Homo sapiens: one gene and its partner. The protein of the gene in region 2 purifies or fractionates together with the protein of the main gene of each other region. This does not show direct contact. Each region holds a gene or a part of one and is shown on either strand. Other genes may lie near its edges. The genes, in order: COTL1 and HEBP1.

Region 1 (3,818 bases), on a different chromosome or scaffold from region 2:
GTAACACACTGTAGTGGGGTGGGAACAGAAAGGATCTCAAGGGTGTTCTGTCATTCTGGGCAAATCTCTCCAAGCCCAGCCCATGAGTCTTATCTTCAAAAAGTAAAATAAAATAAAGTTAATATACTGAGGGCTGAACGAGAACATGAGTGAGGCTGTTCCTGGCACACATCAGCTGCTTGATAAAAATTAACCTCCCGTTCTCCACTTTGTTAGTGTTCTCAGTGGCTTTGCGCGCCAAATGCATTGTCTTTTTATTGTAAAGCTTGACTTCGGGATGCTCCTGGGCTCATCATTCTTGGCAATATGGCGACTTTTTTGTTTTTTATTTTTTAATTGTGGTGGAATTCATTTAACATAAAATGAACCTTTTTATGTTTATTTATTTATTTTGAGACAGATCTCACCCTGTCGCCCAGGCTGGAGTGCAGTGGCGCGATCTTGGCTCACTGCAACGTCCGCCTCCCGGGTTCAAGCGATTCTCCTGCCTCAGCCTCCCCAGTAGCTGGGATTGCAGGCGCCCGCCACCACGCCCGGCTGATTTTTGTAGTTTTAGTAGAGATGGGGTTCCGCCATGTTGGCCAGGCTGGTCTCGAACTCCTGACCTCAGGTGATCTGCCTGCCTCGGCCTCCAAAGTGCTGGGATGACGGGCGTGAGCCACCGCACCTGGCCTGAACCATTTTAAAGTGTACAATTCAGTGGCTTTCAGAACATTCACAGTGTTGTGCAAGCCCTACCTCTGTCTGGTTCCAAAACTTTTTCATCACCCCAAAAGGAGATGGTGGCTCTTTCAAGACGCCAGCTTTGGCATCAACTGGACCTTCTGGTTGTCTGACTTCGGACAAGCATTGTAATTTCCAGCCTTTGTTTCCTCACCTTTAAAATGGAAATAATGTTGATCACCTTACGGGCCTTTTTAAAAAGAACTTGATTGAGGTATGATGTATGTACCTCAAAATCAAGTCATCCTAAGTGTACTTTTTCAGTACTTTTTCGTGAATTTGTGGAGTTGTGCACCCATTACCACAATCCCAATTTTAGAACGTCTCTATCATTTCCTGTTCCCATCTCCAGCTCTGTGTAACCACGAGTCTGCTTTCTGTCTGTATGGGTTTGCCTTTTTTAGACATTTATACCAATGGCAGCTGACAGTACATGGTCTTCATGCCTGGCTTCTTTCACTCAGCATCCTGTTTCCGAGGTTCATCCATGTAGTTGCGTGTGGCAGCGCTTCATTCCTCTCTGTGGCTGAGGAATATTCCATTGTGTGGACGGACCGTGTTTTGATAATCCACTCCTCTGTTGATGGACATAGGGGTTGCTTCCACCTTCCATGATTCATATTTACTACTGTGTGTCATTCTCAGTACTGTGGCACTGTGCTGGTACACATAAGTGCTTAATAATTGTGGTTAGCCGGGCGTGGTGGCTCACGCCTGTAGTGCCAACACCTTGGGAGGCCAAGCTGGGCGGATCACTTAAGGCCAGGAGTTTGAGACCAGCCTGGCCAATGTGGCGAAACCCTGCTTCTACTAAAAATACAAAAAATAGCTGGGTGTGGTGGCAGACGCCTGTAGTTCGAGCTACTTGGGAGGCTGAGACATGAGAATGGCTTGAACCCTGGGGGCAGAGGTTGCTGTGAGCCAAGATTGCGCCACTGCACTCCAGCCTGGGCAACAGGCTTTTCTCTCAAGAAAAAGAAAAATGGTGGTCATTGTTTATGTTATTTCCTTATGGGCTTTTTTTTTTAATGTGGATGATTTTCTTACCTTTAGACGTGTTATTTGTGGTTTTGATAGCTTTTTTTTGTCAAGCTGTCCGTCATCGTTCTGAAATTTTGTTTGTTAAAGTCTTATGATCCACATATGGCAGTAACTGTGTATCATCATGGCTTAAGGGTGTCTGATAAGCCAGGTCACCTGGTTCCCTCATTCATGCCACAAGCGTTTACTGAGTGCATCATGGGTGCCTGCGGGTTCTATGGGTGAAACCTGTGTACTGCAAGAGGAAAGACTGACTGCATCCATTTTGCTGAGCCCTGTAGCCCCACAGCCTGGCGTGGTATTTGTTGAAAGAAGGCAGAGCCTCTACCCTCGTGTAACTCAGTGCGGGTGGAGAGCCCATGGCAGACCCAGGACTGGAGGCTCCTGCGTCATTAGGAACATTGGTGGCTGAAGCTTGCTTGTCCCAGCTGGCGAGAGCCAATTACGCCTGTCTCCTTCCACCTCCACGTATGGTGACATCACTTTGATAGCTTGACGTCAGCCACTGGGGGACTATTTACATCATGGATATGGGCAAAAGACACCAATCTGAGCTTTTGTCCTTTTCTTTTTTTTGGAGTGCCTGCACACCCGTGAGCCTTTCCAACCTCGTAACCTATTATTTTCCTGACGAGATAGTTTTTTACAGATGAGAAAGTTGAGGCACAGAGAATTGAAGGGACTTGGCCAAGGTAACAGCCCAAATTCAAGCCCCAGCTTCCTCGGGCCATCCCCACGGACATGGGAAGACGCAGCATCAGATCTGCCCCACTCCCTCCTCCCAGTCAGGTTTTTTCTGCCAGATGACTCTGCTGTTCAATTTCCATTGACTCTGCTGCTGAATTTCCATTGACTGACTCTGCTGCTGAATTTCCATTTCCATCTCTCATCAGGGTTTTCAGTGCTTTGCTTCCCAGTGTGTTGCCTGAGCCACCCTCACATCCTGTGCCTTCCTTCTTAATAGGAACGCTGTGTTTTCCTTTGTTCTTGCAGAATTTCGCTAAGGAGTTTGTGATCAGTGATCGGAAGGAGCTGGAGGAAGATTTCATCAAGAGCGAGCTGAAGAAGGCGGGGGGAGCCAATTACGACGCCCAGACGGAGTAACCCCAGCCCCCGCCACACCACCCCTTGCCAAAGTCATCTGCCTGCTCCCCGGGGGAGAGGACCGCCGGCCTCAGCTACTAGCCCACCAGCCCACCAGGGAGAAAAGAAGCCATGAGAGGCAGCGCCCGCCACCCTGTGTCCACAGCCCCCACCTTCCCGCTTCCCTTAGAACCCTGCCGTGTCCTATCTCATGACGCTCATGGAACCTCTTTCTTTGATCTTCTTTTTCTTTTCTCCCCCTCTTTTTTGTTCTAAAGAAAAGTCATTTTGATGCAAGGTCCTGCCTGCCATCAGATCCGAGGTGCCTCCTGCAGTGACCCCTTTTCCTGGCATTTCTCTTCCACGCGACGAGGTCTGCCTAGTGAGATCTGCATGACCTCACGTTGCTTTCCAGAGCCCGGGCCTATTTTGCCATCTCAGTTTTCCTGGACCCTGCTTCCTGTGTACCACTGAGGGGCAGCTGGGCCAGGAGCTGTGCCCGGTGCCTGCAGCCTTCATAAGCACACACGTCCATTCCCTACTAAGGCCCAGACCTCCTGGTATCTGCCCCGGGCTCCCTCATCCCACCTCCATCCGGAGTTGCCTAAGATGCATGTCCAGCATAGGCAGGATTGCTCGGTGGTGAGAAGGTTAGGTCCGGCTCAGACTGAATAAGAAGAGATAAAATTTGCCTTAAAACTTACCTGGCAGTGGCTTTGCTGCACGGTCTGAAACCACCTGTTCCCACCCTCTTGACCGAAATTTCCTTGTGACACAGAGAAGGGCAAAGGTCTGAGCCCAGAGTTGACGGAGGGAGTATTTCAGGGTTCACTTCAGGGGCTCCCAAAGCGACAAGATCGTTAGGGAGAGAGGCCCAGGGTGGGGACTGGGAATTTAAGGAGAGCTGGGAACGGATCCCTTAGGTTCAGGAAGCTTCTGTGTAAGCTGCGAGGATGGCTTGGGCCGAAGGG
Region 2 (3,818 bases):
GAGTATGGTGGCTAATGCCCCTTCCACAGCAGAGCAGCTCTAGTGACTGAGTTCATCACAGCAGTGACTTGTAGCAGCTTCATTTAAAAACAGAGCTAGGCTAGCCTGGGCAACACAAGACCCTGTGTCAAAAAAAAAAAAAAAAAAAAAACAAACCAAAAACCAAAACTAAAAAAGTAAAAATCTCAGAGCTAACAAAGGCAAAGACCCAAGGAAGACTTGGGAGGGCCCCACACAAGCTTTAAACATGCCCCAAATAAAGAAATCACTTCTCATAAATCCTTTCTTCTGCTCAAATCATGAAAGCCTTCTTTTTCTAGTAAGGAAAGAGACTGTTCCTAAATCTGGTATTTCTTTTGATGGCAGAAATTGGGGACAGAGAAGCAATAAAGCCTTTCTTTTCAAGATTATTATTCTCTCCCTTACGTCATGTGCTTCTGTTCCAAAATTTGTCTTGTAGCCTAGCCTAAATATACCACTCTAAATCTGGGTTGCACTAAAATTTTTATTAGAGTCAAGTACATCCCGATTTCTAATGAGCTGTATGACTCAAAAGTCTGAATTTGCACCAGGCCAAGATTAGGCCAAATAATGCATTATTTTTGGTGGAGTCCTCTGAATCATGCTTTGCTCTTTTACAAGTGGTTAGTCATGCTGGACAAGCATTCAGCATGTGGATTGCAGCATCACTGATGTGAACACCCAGGATGTTTTCTGTAATGGATTGGTTGTTCCAATGTCTAGACAACAGCTACAGAACATGGATGAAACTGAGACCAATTTTGAATAGCAGAGGCTTGATTCTTCAAATATATTGAAGAGATTATAAGGGAGATGAAGAAAGTTGGGCTCTAGCTTCATTGAGGTTCAAATGAGAGGAAACTGGGTTAGTAGACAGACAATGAACATCCAGGAAAGACTTTTTTCAGGCAATAAGAGCCTGTAAGACACTGGAGTTTTTTATGAACCATGTCTTTAGTTGGAGAACCATTTGTCTGAAATGAATCAAGTGCTGGAGGTGGAAGCAGGTGTTGAGTGCTCTCTGCACCCCCTACTTGTGCTGTGACACTGAACTGTTCTCTAGGAAAAGGGACAATGTTGGCTCTTTAAATACTGATTTTGGAAAGCTCCAAAGGAGTGCTCCTCAAATGTCTTCCTTCATCAGTTAGAGGCAAAATGGCTAGTGTGTGCTCAAATCCTAGTGCTGCCCTTTCTAGGTCTTAAGCTAATTCTAAAATTTCTCAAATCTTCAGGTTTTTCACTGGTAAAATAGGGATAGTGATAACATCAATCTTCGAAGGCTACTGTAAAGATTAAAGGAGAAAAGACTATGCAAACTGCTCAGCGCAGAGCCTGTCACGTAGTAAGCTCACAACAAACAGTAGCTATTATTGTTACTTGGCAGTTTGCTCAGAAGAGCCTTTTAATTCCCTGACTCCAGGGTGAGGGACATGATGGTAATCTAACGAAATACCATGTAGCTGAGTGTTGTGGTGCATGCCTGTGGTCCCAGCTACTTGGGAGGCTGAGGCAGGAGGACTGATCAAGGCCAGGAGTTGAGGCTGCACTGTGCTATGATCACATCTGTGAATAGCCACTGCATTCCAGCCTGGACAACATAGTGAGATCCTGTCTCCAAAACAAAAACACAAAATACAACTAAAAAAAACCATAGTAATATTATGAACTGGCTCAATGAACAATTCTCACTTTCTCAATTAGGCCTATTCTTAAAATGCTTTGTTACCTTGTAAACCCCATTCTTTAACCCCATCCCAATCTTCTTCCTATGTTTTACTTTTTCTTTCTTTCTTTTTTAACAGCACTTATCACCTTTTAACATACTATATAATTTACTCATTAAGTTTATTGTTTATGGTTTGTGTCCTCTGATAGAATATAGGCTGCACAATGGCAGGATTTTTGTTATTTTTTGGTCACTGATGTACACTGAGCACCTAACACAGTGCCTGAATATGTTGGACCCCTTGGTTAAATGAACAATTCTGGGCTAAACAATGAAAGTGATGTCTTCAGCCTGACAGAGCTAAAGATGACAGCACTTAGGACCTAGTGAGTGAAGTGGTTACATAAGTTTCACTCACTCATTCACATAATAAACATCTGAGGGGACAGTGGTGGGAACTGAAACAGGAGAAGTGGATCCACTGCAGCCAGATGCGAAGGCCTTGAATGCCATGCTAAAGAGTTTGAACCTCATCCTATATGCACAGGTAGACCTACGAAAGGGTTTTTTTTTTTTTTTTTTTTTTTTTTTTTGAGACAGAGTCTCACTCTATTACCCAGGCTGAAGTGCAGTGGCGCAATCTCGGCTCATTGCAACCTCTGCCTCCCAGGTTCAAGTGATTCTCCTGCCTTAGCTTCCCGAGTAGCTGGGACTACAGGCACACGCCCAGCTAATTTTTGTATTTTTAGTACAGATGGGGTTTTGCCGTATTGGCCAGGCTGGTCTCAAACTCCTGACCTCAGGTGATCCACCCGCCTCAGCCTCCTAAAGTGCTGGGATTACAGGTGTGAGCCACCACGCCCGGCCTGGAAAGGGTTTTAAAGTAGAGGACTGGCACGATCCAATTGTGCTTTGGAAGGATCCCTCTGCTGGCAGTGGAGGGACAGGGGAAATGGCAAGGGGTTGAGAGATGTGGGGCCACCGGAGCCCAGGAACAGCCAAGTGTGAGATGATGAAGGTGGGAGAAAGGCAGATTTGAGAGGTACCTGTATGTGGAGGGAGGTAAGAGAGAGGAAGGAAGAGAGGATTCTCCAGGGCTTCCAGTTAAGCCTCTGGGTAGAAGAAGATGCCGCTAACCAGAATAGGGATTAAAGGCTGAAGAGTAACATTAGGCAGGAGGGGCAGCTGTAGGGGTGTTCATGATTTAGTTTGGGGGGCATATGAATATTAAGGGCCCTCTGTGAAATACATTCATGCAACAATTATTATCTAAATGTGTGTCTGACCATGTAAAAATCTCCTTAGACTTGGGACAGAACTGGAGTCAGAGATACCAATTTGGGAAGGAGAAGGATCTAGTGACAGAAACTTGGGAGTGCCCAGTGGGTAGGTACTGGCTATAATCATGGTAAGAAGTGACATGTGGTAGAGATGTTGTGCAAACAGCAGGCCAGAAGCTTGCTCCTTAGAATCCTAATATCTAAATGGTGGGTGAAGAAAGAGGACCGGTCAAAGGACAGTGAGAAGGGGCTGAGAAGCAGAAGGAAACCCAGCAGAGAGTGAGATGGAGAATGTCATCACTCAGGGAGTCCTAAAATTCACTCCGGGAAAACCCCCAATTCTTTACATTTATTCCCAGGCAGACTGAAATGCTGGTAATGCAGATAAAATTTTCCCTATTGCTTCATCGTAGAATCCTTTTACTGGAAAACAAACAAACTGGGTGGGCTATGGGAACAGATACATGAGTTCTCCTCTCTGCTAATTTAACCAACCACACTGACTCCCATCACAGAACTGCACAAACAAGCCAGAAACTGAACCCTACCCGGAATCCCCTGGTGTATGAAGGGAGCCTAGCTCTGGCTGACTCTGCTTGTGTTCACAGACACTTTGCCTCATTGGTTCGTGCCTCAGCTTCCAATCTGGACATGGAGCACAATAACAGTGGGCCCACTGCTCTCCGAATTCCTGCGCGCACTTGAAGGTGAGTTAAGAAATGCTCATAAAGTGCTTTGAGCCCCTAAAAGAAAGAAACGTGAAGTCTATACATTATCTTTGTAAGCCTGTGAATACGTCTTTATCTATAAACGCCTCATCTTGAAAGAAGCTCTCCTCCAGGGCAGTGTTT

The links.
Region 1: the proteins of HEBP1 (region 2) and COTL1 fractionate together in Homo sapiens (co-fractionation; one large-scale study listed by BioGRID). This does not show direct contact.

The regions. Positions count from the first base shown.
Region 1 is NC_000016.10:84,565,895-84,569,712, reverse strand, and holds part of COTL1 (coactosin-like protein), read left to right. Parts: intron 1-2,757; coding exon 2,758-2,868; 3' UTR 2,869-3,818. UniProt on the Homo sapiens protein: Binds to F-actin in a calcium-independent manner. Has no direct effect on actin depolymerization. Acts as a chaperone for ALOX5 (5LO), influencing both its stability and activity in leukotrienes synthesis.
Region 2 is NC_000012.12:12,975,949-12,979,766, forward strand, and holds part of HEBP1 (heme-binding protein 1), read right to left. Parts: intron 3,675-3,818; exon of another isoform or gene 3,483-3,674; intron 3,074-3,482; exon of another isoform or gene 2,993-3,073; intron 1-2,992.